Linked DNA regions of Homo sapiens: regions 2 and 3 are each linked to region 1. The links come from fine-mapping of genetic effects on gene expression. A gene starts in region 1. Each other region holds a variant in brackets. All regions are shown on one strand. Distances are between the middles of the regions.

The links. PIP is the estimated chance that this variant, and not a neighbour inherited with it, causes the effect.
Region 2: its variant is the best candidate, but not a certain one, in a credible set for the expression of PPA1 in whole blood (INTERVAL, PIP 0.85).
Region 3: its variant is the best candidate, but not a certain one, in a credible set for the expression of PPA1 in aorta (GTEx, PIP 0.53).

What each region holds. Positions count from the first base shown.
Region 1 is chr10:70,231,199-70,236,424 of GRCh38, reverse strand. It overlaps PPA1 (inorganic pyrophosphatase 1), which reads left to right and starts at 2,996. Exons shown (of 11, transcript NM_021129.4): 1 at 2,996-3,161. The coding sequence starts at 3,098. RefSeq lists a silencer at 2,785-3,354.
Region 2 is chr10:70,208,247-70,213,472 of GRCh38, reverse strand. PPA1 (inorganic pyrophosphatase 1) reads left to right here. Exons shown (of 11, transcript NM_021129.4): 6 at 1-10; 7 at 3,788-3,915; 8 at 4,183-4,268. Among named protein-coding and RNA genes, the nearest start is that of PPA1, 23 kb to the left of the region's middle. The variant G/A (reference allele first, on the strand shown) is at 2,431.
Region 3 is chr10:70,186,721-70,191,946 of GRCh38, reverse strand. No RefSeq gene overlaps it. Among named protein-coding and RNA genes, the nearest start is that of SAR1A, 19 kb to the right of the region's middle. The variant C/T (reference allele first, on the strand shown) is at 2,733.

The DNA.
Region 1 (5,226 bases):
ATTAAGATGATGAAATGAAGGCTGAGAAGGAGAATGAGAAATGAGTAGCAAAGAAGTAGGAATGGGCCGGGCGTGGTGGCTCATGCCTGTAATCCCAGCACTTTGGGAGGCCGAGGCAGGCAGATCACGAGGTCAGGGCTTCGAGACCAGTTTGGCCAACATGGTGAAACCCGGTCTCTACTAAAGGTACAAAAAATTAGCTGGGCGTGGTGGCAGGCGCCTGTAATCCCAGCTACTCTGGAGGCTGAGGCGGGAGAATTGCTTGAACCCGAGAGGCGGAGGTTGCAGTGAGCCGAGATCGCACCACCGCACTCCAGCCTGGGCGACAGAGCGAGACCCCATCTCAAAAAAAAAAAAAAAAGAAGTAGGAAGAACACGAGAAGAGAATGTAGTCGTGGCCTGGCACCGTGTCTCACGCCTGTAATCCCAACACTCTGGGAGGCTGAGGTGGGCAGATCATTTGAGGCCAGGAGTTCGAGGCTAGCCTGGCCAACATGATGAAAACACATCTCTACTAAAAATACTAAAATTAGCCAGGCATGGTGGTGCATGCCTGTGATCCCAGCTACTCAGGAGGCTGAGGTACAAGAATCACTTGAACCTGGGAGGTGGAGGTTGCAGTGAGCCGAAATCACACCACTGTACTCCAGCCTGGGTGACAGAGTGAGACTCTGTCTCAAAAAAGAAAAAAAAAAAAAAGAAGAGAATGTAGTCGCAAGCCAAAGAAGGAAATTAGAGACACCCAACAGGGTCACCCACAGCAAAGGGGACAGGATATGGACTGAAAAGTGCCACTAGATTTGGTCACTGAGTGAGAAAGATAATATTTGAGAAGAGATGGACTCCTTCTTTGTCAAACTAATGTACTTAAGAAGGTATTTTCCACCTTTACATTAATTCCTCTACCTATCCGTCCAGCAAAGATTCACTAAACATCTACTCTAGGCTGTGTACTGTGCTAGGCCCTAGGGAGACATGGTAGACCAAGGTCCTTTTGGGCCTATGGGCTCACTACACTTGCCTGCAAAGGAAAGTTACAATTCACCAGGGCTGGGTGTTTTACCAGACCTGATAATGACTGGCTCTCTGAATACATTCGATGAAACAAGAGCCAGTGTGCAAGTCTGGAGGTCAGTGAGACTTTATTATCTTGCTCTGAGCTGGCAGGAGGCAAAGGGAAAGTGTATGTAGAACATTATTATTGCATCACTGCTGTCTTCTTAAGTCAGTCACAGATGAGAGTCTGGGTTTTTCCAAGAAAATTGGTTCCATCTGCTCAAAGGCAGAAAAGTGATAGAGCAGTTCAATCAAAAGAGCATCCCCTTAAAATATTCTTTGAACTTGATCCTACTTTTTTTTCTGAAACAGAGTCTCGCTCTGTCACCCAGGCTGGAATGCACTGGCGTGATCTCAACTCACCGCAACCTCCGCCTCTCGGGATCAAGTGTTCTCCTGCCTCAGTCTCCCGAGTAGCTGGGATTACAGGCGCGTGCAACCACGCCCAGCTAATTTTTGTATTTTTACTAGGGACAGGGTTTCACTGTGTTGGCCAGGCTGGTTTCCAACTCCTGACGTCGGGTAATCCGCCCACCTCGGCCTCCCAAAGTGCTGGGATTGAAGGCGTAAGTCACCGCGCCTGGCCTTGACCCTAATTATTGACTAAACTATTGCTTCGCTAATTTTTTTTCCTGCCCTTCTGTTTTAACAGCAGTAAAACAGTGTGGTGAAATGTTCAAAAAATCAGTGAATCACAGCCTTCTGAAAATTAATGGGTGTCAGTGAGGTTTGGGAGTTGGATGGAGACAAAGGGAGCGACACCATAACTAACTGGAGATCTTACTAGGTTTTCATTTAATATTCATTTTTTACAATAGACATTGTTTGGAAAAAAGGGTTTAATTCAAAATGTCATTAAGGCACATTATCTTTAATGTTCTAGAAAAAGTTATTTAAAGAAATCCTGGCCATGAAATTAAAATAAATAAATAAATAAAACCAGGCATTCTTTGAAATGTGAATAATAATTTGCTAATTTATATTTAGGATTGTGGATATACTTTTTTTCTTTTACATGTATTCCTGGGGAGGTAAGTGATGCAAATATTTTCCCACTGCCTCAATCAGACTTTAGTTTTTGGGGTCTGGCCTGATATGATGGAATATAAACAGGAAATCAAGATCAGAAGAGCCTGTCCCTGAGAACACTCCTTCACGGGACTCTAGCTCACGCCTGGACCTTCCCAGTGCTTCCATCTGAAGCCCCTGGAGACCCAGGTGGGTTAAGTAGGGTGGCAGGGGGGATGGAGGGGGCGGGGGGCGCGGGGGCGTAAATCCTCCCCCACTGGGGAGGGTGACAGTAACAACTTCCAGATTGTTTACAAAGATACAGGCTCTGCTTCAGGCATTTGACGTGTATTAACTCGGGTAATCATCCCAGTAACTCATGAAATAGTTATATTATTATCTTCACTTCCCAGATAAGCAACGGAGTGAGAGAGATTATAGAAAGTGGAGAAGCGAGTACCTTACTAGTAGCCACTAGGGGTGTCAGTAATATGGCTCAACTTTGTTACGACGGATCAGAAAAATGCTCACCTTTAAGACCGCAAGCAGAGCCTGTCTGGGGAAGCAGGTGACTTATCAACGCCTTTTGAGATAAGGAATAGGACTGCGGGGAGGAGTGTGTGAGAATCAAAGGTGAGTTCCCTGTGTGCGTGGTCGGCGGTCAACTCCTAGCTAGTCCAAGCTTAGAGCCTGCGCATTTGCCCTCCCGGGTCAGAGCCCAAAGCCGAAGGAACAGAACCAGCGCCGGCGGCAGCCACGTGGCCCAGCCTCTGAGCCCTAGCTGCCATCGCGGAGGCTGGGCCCGAGGGGCGGGGCTGGGGAGTGCGGACACCCGGGCCTGGCGGAGTGCGCCTGCGCACGGGGTTGGCCCGGCGGGGGTGGGAACACTAGCAGAGCCGCGTTAAAGGCGCTCCCCGCCCCGCCCGCCGGTCCAGTGCTCGCAGTGCGCAGGCGTGGGGCTCTCTCCTTGTCAGTCGGCGCCGCGTGCGGGCTGGTGGCTCTGTGGCAGCGGCGGCGGCAGGACTCCGGCACTATGAGCGGCTTCAGCACCGAGGAGCGCGCCGCGCCCTTCTCCCTGGAGTACCGAGTCTTCCTCAGTGAGTGTCTGCGGCCCGTGGCCCCTCCGCGCCCGTCCGCCCATTCATTCCCGGGCCTTGCCTCCCCGGGAGGGTGCGGCCCGCGCTCGGCCCCAGGTCTCCGACGCGGGCCCGTCTCCTCGGGCGCGTTGTGGGGCCTGGCCGGCCTCACATTGCATACTTGCCGCCGCCGGTCGGGGCGGCGAGGGTCGCCTCCGGCCATCCCTCCCCGCTGAACGGAGATGGTCCCTTTGTCACGCCTCGGGGTACCCGAACCTGGGCCCAGCTAGTTTTGCAGGTGTCTGGCTCTGACAGGGTCTGTTGGGAAAAGGAAATCACCGACCCACCCTAGAAAGGTGCTTGGAAGTAACATAATTCCCGTAAGAGGATTGCTCAGTTTGGAGAAAAGGCGACTCCGGGCCGGGGGGGGCAGTGACTTCCTAAAGACCTTAATTCCGCCGCCGTAGCTCAGATTATCGGCGCTGAGCGGAGCCAAGTCCACCCCCTCGTTTTACAGACGGGAAAACTGAGGCCCGGATCGGGAGCCGTCTGTGAAGGCGCTGGACCGGTCCTCCGCGGCCCGGTCGTGCTCCTGCCTCTGCGCCGCCTGTTTTCCCTCAGCGCCGATGCTGGGAATGCTCCTTATGAAACAGAAAGCTGTTTCCCTCAAATCAAACAGATGACGTCAGTCTGGAAACAAGACTGAGAAAGTGCCAAGTTTTTACCTTTGCAGGATTCGGCGTCTAGGGGGTACCTACCCCGGGTCCTGCACCTAGGGCTGCACGGGGAAACCGGGAGGCTGCATGCTGGCGCCCTCCACGCTCCTTAGGGCACCACGTTTTTTTGGCCTTGTAGGTGGAGGAAAGCTACTTGGGGTTTTTCTTTATCCTCTTACTCCCCCCACCCCCAGCTACTAGGAGTAGATTATGGGCGATAACGGAGGCGTTCGTAAATGTGTCACCACAGGCGCTTCTATTGTAACCTCTTTACAGTTTTATTTGGAAGGAAATGGGCAGGTGCCTCGAACTCTGAGTTGGTGTATGAAGGAAGGGGAAGCGGGGAGTAGAGGAGACGAATGAATAGGCATTGAAGGAACAAAAAGTAGCCTGGTGCGGGAGGAAAAGGAAAGCGAACTGTAAAGCTTACACATCTAGCCAAAGGTTAACTATCAGGTAAAATCCAGGAAGGGTGAGAACTACCCCCCACTCTCCATTTTATTTAATTTTGCAATTAAGCAGCAAGGACAGTCCAGTAACTTTTGACTAATAATTCATGGGACTGTTTTTCTGGAAATAGTGTTGGCTCCAGAATTTCTCTGTAGGAAAGGCTTACAGAGGTGACTGTCTGGTTTGAAGGTGAGGGGTGGATCTTCAAGCTATATATGCAGAACAAACACACTGCTTTTACTTAGGTTATTTATTTGCAATTAATATTTGGTGGCCGTTATGGGAGACCAAAGCTACTCCTAGAATTTGGCACTAGCTGAAGTAACTGTTTTTATCAAGTGGAACTCTCTGGAACTTAAGAAATACTAATAATTAGAACCCACTACATAGTTATCCAATTTTAAGTGCTTTATCCTTCCTTAATAGAAATAAACTTTTTTAAGCTTTATAATATTACATTTGTCAATTTCTTTAAAACTGATAAAGGGCTGGACAGACTGCAAAGTCACAATTGGCCCTAAAGGGACTTTTATGTTTTATTGTTTGTTTTTTGAAACAAAGTCTCGCTCTGTTGCCCAGGCTGGAGTGCAGTGGCATGATCTTGGCTCATTGCAACTTCAGCCTCCCGGGTTCAAGTGATTCTCCTGCCTCAGCCTCCCAAGTAGCTGGGATTACAGGCACTTGCCACCATGCCTGACTAATTTTTGTATTTTTAGTAGAGACGGGGTTTCACCATGTTGGCCAGGCTGGTCTTGAACTCCTTACCTCCAGTGATCCACCTGCTTTGGCCTTCCAAAGTGCTGGGATTACAGGCGTGAGCCACCGTGCCTGGCCTCCACTTTGATTTTTAAACTTGAAGGGATGCGATGTGGACAGTAGGTTTCCTAAAGAATACTGAAGAAGTTTTAAAATTACTTTTT
Region 2 (5,226 bases), 23 kb after region 1:
AATTATAATGGTAAGAAAATTTGAAAAGTCTGAAGTCTTTCTAATTAATTCATAAGCACCACCATACTTAACCTATAATGACAGAATTGTAAGCCCTTACCTTCAAACTGTTAAAGGATGGAGGAACAAAGCACTGGACAAGCATTATTTCTATGACTGCACTTGTAATTAACTAAGTAAACTTTCTCCTTCATTCCAGGAAAGAAAAAATCTGGTAGGTTCTTACTGTTTTTTTGGTCCTTTCCTTCCCCACATACCAGCACTCAGTTGGTATGTTTATTTATTTTAAAACATTTAATTGAGATATTCACATATCAAAGAGTCACCATTGTAAAATGTACAATTCAGTGGTTTTTAGTATATTCACTAAGTTGTACAACCATCACCACTCTCTAATTGCAGAACATTTCATCAGCCCAGAGGAAATCCTGTATCCATGGGCAATCACTCCCTGTCCCCCTTCCCTCAGTCCCTGATGACTGCAGATCTACTTTGTGCCTATGGATTTGCCTATGCTGTTATTTCATGTAAATGGCATCATATAGGTGGCCTCTGTGTCTGGTTTATTTCACTTAGCGAAGTAAGTGTCTTCAGGATTCATCCGTATTGTAGTATGTATCAGCACTTCATTCCCTTTTTTTTTTTTTTTGGTGGTAAATTTTACATAACATAAAATTCACCATTTTAATTAAAGTGTGAAATTCAGTGGCATTTCATTCATTCACAAGGTTGTGCAGCCATCACCACTAGTTCAAGTCATTCCCTATTCCCTCCTCCTCTCCAGGCCCTGGCAGCCACTAATCTGCTTTTTGTCTTTATAGCTTTGCCTATTCTACCTATTCTAGGTATCTCATATACATGGACTGGTACAATATATGGATCTTTGTTGTTGCTGTTTCTGGTTTCTTTCACTTAGTATAATGTTTTCTAGGTTTATCCATATTGCATATTGTGGCATCTGTCAGTACTCCTTTTTATGGTTGAATATTATTCCATTGTGTGGATATACTACATTTTGTTTATCCATTCATCAGTTGATGGACATTTGGGTTGTTTTGGCTGTGTAATGCTGCCATGAACATTCCTGTACAAGTTTTTGTGTGGACTTATGTTTTTATTATTGGGTACATACATAGGAGTTGCCAAAGCTAGAACACTTTGAGCAAGAAAATAAAGTAGTATTGTAATATAACCTGGAACATAAAATAAATCTCCATGAGTCTATACTGACAAATAAATGATTGAATAAATAGACAAATGAGGAAGAATAGACAAATCTCAAAGCAGAAGAATTCCAAATAATTTATGCAGATACTCCATTCTCAAGGAGGTCCTTAATTGTGAGTTGTGCCTGGTGACTTCCTTCCAAAGAGTACAGTGTGGGTAAGGGAGAGGAGAGGATGACTTTAGAGCAGAGAAACTTGACAAACACTGCCTCAGCCAGGTGATGGAGGTCAATGTCAGCAGTGATAAGAGTCACCTTGAGAGCATGTTCCCTCAAAATGATGTGATGTATATTTGCATCTGTGTTAATTCATTGAAGAAGGACTGGAAGAATGCCAATCCTTTAATGTTTCGTTTCAATTTTGAAAGGTGAGAGTGCATTCACACCATCTGTTCACTACTTGGTAGTACGGCTCTGTTCTGTTGGTCCGTGTGTGCATTTCCAACGTGCTTCTTATGCAAGAGAACTTGGCATGCTGTGGCCACAATTAGTGAAGCCAAGCCCATCACTCTGTCAGCACTCATTTACTAAGGCTTTATTTTCCTGCAGTTCAGGTTATTAGAACCCTGAAAACTTTCTCGGGGTGGCTGGTCCCATGGCGCAAGTAGTATGCAGCTTTCCCTAATGTCAACCTAAGGCAGTGTCTATTGTCCATCCTATAGCTTGCCCCTGTGCATCTCTTCCATTTGCTGTCCCTGAGTTGTATTTATATAACGAAATTTAAACTTCAGTGTTTTCCTGAGTTCTGTGAACCATTTTAGCAAATTAGGGGACCTGGGGAGAGGATTGTAGAAACCCCTAATTTATAGCTGATAGTCAAAAGTACAGGAGGCATCTGAAGTGGGGCAGTCTTGTGAGACTGAGCCCCTAACCTTTGAGATCTGATGCTAACTCCAGGTAGATAGTATCAGAATCACAGTGAATTACTGAGCACTCAGTTGGTGTCTGAATAATTGGAGAATTAGTTTCTGTTATTGGAAAACATCAACATTTGCATGTTGGATTTCTGGATTTCCAAATTATTTCTATATCAGGTGACACATTTCATGTAAATTATAAGTTCTTTGAAATTTACTAGTGCTTAAACATTTCCCAGTGCATTCTGTAAAGTTTCCATACTTTTAGTGATATTATGATAATAGAATGCATGCTATTCTTTATGCAGATTATAAATTGGATTGAAGCGGCCGGGCGCGGTGGCTCAC[G/A]CCTGTAATCCCAGCACTTTGGGAGGCCGAGGCAGGCGAATCATGAGGTCAGGAGATCGAGACCGTCCTAGCTAACACGAAACCCCATCTCTACTAAAAATACAAAAAAATTAGCCAGGCATGGTGGTGGGCACCTGTAGTCCCAGTTACTCAGGAGGCTGAGGCAGGAGAATGGCGTGAACCCGGGAGGCAGAGCTTGCAGTGAGCCGAGATTGCGCCACTGCACTCCAGCCTGGGAGACAGAGCGAGACTCCTTCTCAAAAAAAAAAAATAAATTGGAGTGAAGCAATGTTATCTTATACAAATATAAATAAGCTTTTGTTATTGTTGAATGTATTTCTCTTCCTCATAATACTTTTCCTAACTGACTTTTTAGGATGTGTATCTCTGTTTGCTTGCATTGAGCAGGAGTTTGTTATTTGAAGTGCAGTTTGATAACATTGAGGCTAGCCATTGTTGATGGCTATACAGAAACTTAAAATTTTTAAAGCAGTGCACTTTTCTGTCAGCCAGAACTAAAGTATTGTTATGTACAGTGCCTGTACTATCCAGCAAAGTCTAGTCACATTTAATACGTAACCCATCAATGGATATCAATCTAATCTATTTTTCTTATCTTTTAGTATGTAATAGTGTTGTGATCCTCTGACATAGCCTCTGCCTCTGGACCAGGGATAGTACCTCAAGCCTGTAATCCCAGTGCTTTGGGAAGCCAAGGCAGGAGGATTGCTTGAGCCCAGGAGTTTGAGACCAGCCTGGGCAACATGACGAGACCCCATTTCTACAAAAAATTTAAAAATTAGCTGGGCGTGTGCATGCTTATAGTCCCAGCTACTCAGGAGGCTGAGGTGAGAGGATCGCTGAACTGTGGAGGTCAAGGCTGCAGTGAGCCTTGTTCGGGCCACTGCATTCCAGCGTGGGTGACAGAGCGAGACCTTGTCTCTGAAAAAAAAAAAAAGATAACCTCTGTCTTTTTCAGTATCTTGTACACTTCTCATAGGAATTATCTACATTTGCCAAACTGGTTGTTTCATTATGTAGCCACCAGCTGTTTGCCCTTACCTAACAGAGATTACTATTGTACTGATTGTTCTCTGTACTTAGTGTCAGAGCTATTCAGAGATACTAGATGATTTTCTTTCAATGTATATGTGTATGGCTTCTCTTCTCAACAAGGGGCTTCGCTCCAATGTTATCTTGAACTTCCGTGATAAGTCATTCCACAGCTCTTTCAAAATAAGTACTTGGAATTTTTGTTGAGTGTATAATTATTTGTGCATCTTGAAATCTGCTTATTCTCTTCTTTCTTTTTAAAAAAATCATTCTCACTGTCATCTTATGCTTCTTCTCTTCTTAGATATCAATGATGTCAAACGGCTGAAACCTGGCTACTTAGAAGCTACTGTGGACTGGTTTAGAAGGTATAAGGTTCCTGATGGAAAACCAGAAAATGAGTTTGCGTTTAATGCAGAATTTAAAGATAAGGTAATATGTCATTCAGAACTGTAGCTTTAGGCTCATTTGTATTGAGACTCATAATTTAACCATATTGTTACCATCTAAAGATTCACAAAACAGAAGTCTGGAAACATAACACAGTCTTGGTGTTTATTTATTCACTTTAATATTCTCTTCCATTTTTAGAATAAGGAAATGATTCAGAAGAGACAAAGTATCAGGCTTTGGGGAAATGTTGATAATAGGAAAATAATACCTTTTTATCATTGTAATGCAAACCTCTTCAAATTATAGGACTTTGCCATTGATATTATTAAAAGCACTCATGACCATTGGAAAGCATTAGTGACTAAGAAAACGAATGGAAAAGGAATCAGTTGGTAAGTGTAAACACTTTGCATGTTTAACACACAAAGCAGACCAGCTTGCAGAAAAGGTTTTAATAATCATAAGACACTGTACTGTTACTTTCACTTAGAAAAGAGATACAAGGCTGGGTGCGGTGGCTCACACCTGTCATTCCAGCACTTTGGGAAGCCAAGGTGGATGGATTGCTTGAGCCCAGGAGTTGAAGACCAGCCTGGACAACATGGAAAAACCCTGTCTCTACAAAAAGTACAAAAATTAGCTGGGCATGGTGGTACATACCTGTAGTCCTAGCTACCTGGGAGGCTGAGTTGGGAGGATCACCTGAGCCTGGGGAGGTTGAAGCTGCAGTGAGCCGTGATCGTACCACTGTACTCCAGCCTGGGCGACAGAGCGAGACTCGGTCTCAAAAAAAAAAAAAAAAGAGTACGAGAAACAGCCAATGTACAAAAATAATTCTCCCAGAAATCTTCTATTCTGTGTCAGGATAATGTCCTATAAAATGAAAACATTGTCCTTCCAACAAACAGAAGAAAAATGGAGAAGAGTTATATGTGTAAAAATGTACAGTCCTAAGAGTTGGCATTTGTCTGGGTGCTATATGGCTCATTCCTGTAATTCCAGCACTTTAGGAGGCTGAGGCAGGAGGATCACTTGAACTCAGGAATTGGAGACTGGTGGGGGCAACATAGTGAGACCTCATCTCTACTAAAAATTAAAAAAAAATTAGCCAGGCATGGTGGCGCTTGCCTGTAGCAAGGCTGAGGTGGGAAGATCACTTGAGCCTTGGAGATCAAGGCTGCAGTGAGCTGTGATTGCCCCACTGCACTCCAACTGGGGCACCTGAGCAAGACCCTGTCTCAAAAGAAAAAAAAAAGGAAAAAGATTTGGCTTTTAAGTTAACTTCTCTATTTTTTCGTATCTTACGATTTCTATGAAAATGGTCTTAATGTATGTTAAATAACAGGTCAG
Region 3 (5,226 bases), 44 kb after region 1:
GTGAGGAGAGAAAATTGTAGTACTCTATAGTGGTAAACTATGACTTGTGGGCCAAATCCAGCCTGCTGCCTGTTTTGTAAATAAAATTTTATTGGAACATAGCCAACATCTTTTCATTTGCAAATTGTCTGTGGCTGCCTTCCGTCTACAGTGGAGTGTTCAGTAGTTAGGACAGTGACCATATGGCCCCAAAAGCCAAAAGTATTTACTGTTTGTCTGTTTACAGAAAACATTTTCCAATCCCTGCTCTATCATATGATCCTATTTGTGTTTTTTACAAAGGGAGCATTTGGAGGAAAGACGTATATCAATAGATATGCTTCTATAAGCATAGACAATGAAAATCCAAATCCAAACCACAGTTAAGAAATCTAAAACCACAGTAACAATGATTACCTCTGGGGAGTGGAACTGTGGAGTAAGCAAGGAATAGATAAGGTCAGAGAGTTTCCTTCTTCTTTAAAAGCTTCTGTACTCTTGGAATTATTTTTCTAAAAGCATATGCAGTATGCCTTATTTTATTAAAAAAAAAAATCAATGAAGTAGGAGGAGAACACTGATGAATGGTGTTCAGCACACCCAGTGATATAAATGCTGCCAGCTCTCTAAGGCAGACTTTCTCCAAGTGGTCCCTGAACTACCAGAGCTATCTGTTTAAAAAAAAAAAAAAAGCCGAATGAATCAGAATTGGGAGGTGCTGGGCCCTAAAATCCACTTTTTTTTTTAGACAATCTCACTCTGTCGCCCAGGCTGGAGTGCAATGGCATGATATCAGCTCACTGCAACCTCCACCTCCCAGGTTCAAGTGATTCTCCCACCTCAGGCTCCCAAGTAGCTGAGCCTACATGCGCACGCCACCACGCCTGGCTAATTTTTTGTATTTTTAGTAGAGATGGGGTTTCACCATGTTGGCCAGGCTGGTCTTAAACTACTGACCTTAAGTGATCCTCCCGCCTCAGGCTCCCAAAGTTCTGGGATTACAGGCATGAGCCACTGCACCCAGCCTAAAATCCACTTTTCAACCAGGACTCTGATGTTTGAAACCGCTGCTCTTGTAATAAATGCCAGAGATCAGCAAAAGATTTCTCAGTGGGGTTTAATATAATCAGTGTGAGATCATCCAGCAAACATCTACTCACAGCAAAAGCAACAACAATAATAGCTCCCAATTATGAGCACTTCCTAAATGCAGGCCCTGTGCTATAGGCTTTACCCACTTGGACCTGTCGAATTCACTTAGCAACCCTGAGCTGAGTGTTACTATGATGAACTTGGCTCCGGGAAGGTTGCGTGGTGACCCGAGGTCTCTGAGCTCCTTATTTGGGTCTGTCACAAGGCTAGGGGCTGGAAATGCAGATCCTAGCCCCATGGCACTTGCACAGAGATGAGTTAGTCTTCTTCTTCTTTGTGTTGTTCACCCAGCAAGCCATGTGATGCTGGTTTAATAGCTGGATCACCTTCAGCACATGAGTTCCACACCTGCAAAAGAAGAGGTTGACCCAAGTACTCTGGAAGGCCTGTTCCAGCTCCAACATTCCTCTGGCTTAAAGCAGACTTGTCACCGTAGTGCGGATGTTCAAATGTGACATGTGGCTCCTTGTCACTGCCCCCACGCACCGGAGCCCTCTTCCTAGGGCCTGTCCTCCTGTCCTTCCCTGTTGAGACAGGCAGAGGTGCTGTGCCCCGTTCCTGCACATTCAAGTCTATTTCCTTGCTTCTCTGTCTCTCCTCATGAAAGTGGATCGTGACTTCAGAACTTATATCCCTGACTAGTCTGCCAGCTCCTCACAAGCAGGGGCCATGTCACAGTCATGTTTATGCCCCTGACGTCCCGCACTGCCCATAGCAGGAACTCTGTTAATAACCTTCTGATTGCTTCTCGAATGGCTTTTCAAACAGGACTGCCTTTTTGTGCTCCTCAAGGTGACAAAGTCAGCAGCCTAGTGACTGCCTGATTCCACAGAGAGGTTCTGCGTGGGCATTTCACGTGGCACTGTGCATGGCTTTCCACACTGGGATTTCTACACCCCACAGGGACACAGAGTGTGTGCCAAAGGAGACTGAAGCCACAGGGTAGACACCATGCAAAGCCCTGGGGCTTCCATTTTACTGGGGAGTGAATAATGACAAGGTTCTTCATAGGCTACAATTTTATTATTTAAAAAAATTAAAAAATATTTTTTTCAGATGGAGTCTCGCTCTGTTGCCCAGGCTGGAGTGCAGTGGCATGATCTCCACTCACTGCAACCTCTGCCTCCCAAGTTCAAGCAATTCTCCTGCCTCAGCCTCCCAAGTAGCTGGGACTACAGGTGCCTGCCACCATGCCTGGCTACCTTTTTGTATTTTTGGTAGAGATGGGGTTTCACTATGCTGGCCAGGCTGGTCTCCAACTCCTGACCTCAGGTGATCCACCTGCCTTGGCCTTCTAAAATGCTGGGATTACAGGCGTGAGCCACTGTGCCTGGCCATAGGCTACAATTTTAAATGCCAGTTTTCCATGAATTTTGAAGGAAAAATGTGCTATTTCAGGGCAAGTTGCTATTGGTGGCTTCCATGTCATGACTGTGCCACTAGACTCCTGGAGTTAAAGTTGAGAACACTCTGGGGAAGAACTCTGTGCTGGAAGTCCTAAGATCTACATGCTGGCCCTGGCTCCTTTGTGACATCAGGCAGGTCTTTTCACTTCTCTGGGACTCGGTTTCCTTATTCTGGATAACAAGGTAGTGGGCTCC[C/T]ACCTTGTGCATATGTTTTAATGTGGAAGATGTCACATCCCCACGATTTTGATATAGTCCAGTGGGGCAGGATGCAGTGGGGGAAAAAAAACCCTCTCTACCACTGAACTGGACAAGGTGGGTGATTGGGAAACTGATATTAAAGTTCAAAGCCATATTTGCATGATTCTGAAATTGCAGACCACAGAGACTGGTCATGACCCTTCACCATGTCAGGATGTGTTCATAGCTTCTGTCAGAGGATGTGACAGGGGAAGGTGGGACCTCACAATGTCATGCTGTGTCCTGCTGTAGCTTTAACTCCACAGTTCCTGCCATGGGGATAGTGTGCAGGGTTAGAAAGTTAAGGTCATTATTACAGAAAGTAGAACAAGTCCTCGGGCACCCTCAGGGTCCTAGTCTAGTGCTCAGTCACAGGTGTGCAATCTCTTTTTTTTTTTTGAGATGGAGTCTCGCTCTGTCACCCAGGCTGGAGTGCAATGGTGCAATCTCGGCTCAGTGCAACTTCCACCTCCTGGTTTCAAGTGATTCTCCTGCCTCTACCTCCCAAGTAGCTGGGATTACAGGCATGTGCCACCATGCCCGGCTAATTTTTTGTATTTTTAGTAGAGATGGGGTTTCGCCATGTTGGCCAGGCTGGTCTCGAACTCCTGACTTCAGGTGATCTGCCCACCTTGGCCTCCCAAAGTGCTAGAATTACAGACTAGGACCCTGAGGGTGCCCGAGGACTTGTTCTACTTTCTGTAGCGTTTTTTTTTTTTTTTTTTTTTTTTTGAGTCAGTCTTGGTCTATCACCCAGGCTGGGGTGCAGTGGAGTGATCATGGCTCACTGTAGCCTCAGCCTCCCATGCTCAAGTGATCCTCCCACTTCAGCCTCCTGCATAGCTTGGACCACAGGCATGCACGACCATGCCTGGCTAATTCATTCATTTATTTTTTGTAGAGATGGGGTCTGTCTGTATTGCTCAGGGTGGTCTCAAACTCCTGGGCTCAAGGGATCTTCCTGCCTTGGCATTCCAAAGTGCTGGGATTACAGGCTTGAGCCACCATGCCTGGCTGCAATCTCTGCCAGTAGGAACCACAAAGAAATCTGCTGGAAGAATTTGAGGGGGAAAGTGTATGCAGAATTGGGCTCCCTTCTTTTTGAACAAATTCTCTTTCCTAAGGAACAGCAGAGGGAAGCAGACTCAATGTTTGGGGTGACTTTATAGAACATAACTATTGCAAATAGCAAGAATCAATTGTAGATAGAGACACATGTCTTTGTGTGTGTATATATATGTATATTTCTAAAACAGGCCAGGCACAGTGACTCACGCCTGTAATCCCAGCAATTGTGGGAGGCTGAGGCAGGCGGATCACTTGAGGTCAGGAGTTCTAGACTAACCTGACCAACATGGTGAAACCCCGTCTCTACTAAAAATACAAAAATGAGCCAGACGTGGTAGTATGCACCTGTAATCCCAGCTACTCGGGAGGCTGAGGTTGCAGTGAGCCGAGATCACACCACTGCATTCCAGCCTGGGCGACAGAGCAAGACTGTGTCTCAAATAAAATAAAAATATGGCACATATGTACCATGGAATATTATGCAGCCATAAAAAATGATGAGTTCATGTCCTTTGTAGGGACATGGATGAAGCTGGAAACCAGCATTCTCAGCAAACTATCGCAAGGACAAAAAACCAAACACCGCATGTTCTCACTCATAGGTGGGAATTGAACAGTGAGAACACATGGACACAGGAAGGGGAACATCACACACCGGGGCCTGTTGTGGGGTGGGGGGATGGGGAGAGGGATAGCATTAGGAGATATACCTAATGTTAAATAACGAGTTAGTGGGTGCAGCACACCAACATGGCACATGTATACATATGTAACAAACCTGCACGTTGTGCACATGTACCCTAAAACTTAAAGTATAATAAAAAAAAAAAAAAGAAAAAAAAATAGCCGGCCAGATGCGGTGGCTCACACCTGTAATCCCAGCACTTTGAGAGGCTGAGGCGGGCAGATCACGAGGTCAGGAGATCGAGACCATCCTGGCTAACACGGTGAAACCCCATCTCTACTAAAAATACAAAAAATTAGCCGGGCGTGGTGCCGGGCGCCTGTAGTCCCAGCTACTCGGGAGGCTGAGGCAGGAGAATGGCATGAACCCGGGAGGTGGAGCTTGCAGTGAGCCAAGATAGCGCCACTGCACTCCAGCCTGGGCGACAGAGTGAGACTCCGTCTCAAAATAAAATACAATAAAATAAAACAATAAAATAAAATTAAAAAATGGGGAAATTGATTTACACCTTTGTAACCTTTTATTTTAACTTAAATGTGAACTCTTCTTCATTTATAAAGCTATTCAATACTATACAAAATGACTCAATTAATTATGTAATGAAGATAACAGTTCATGTATTCAGTCTCTAGTGATTCACCTTTTGGTTTATTTCCAATTTCTTCTGATTTTAAATAATGCTGCAATAAGAGAACGTCA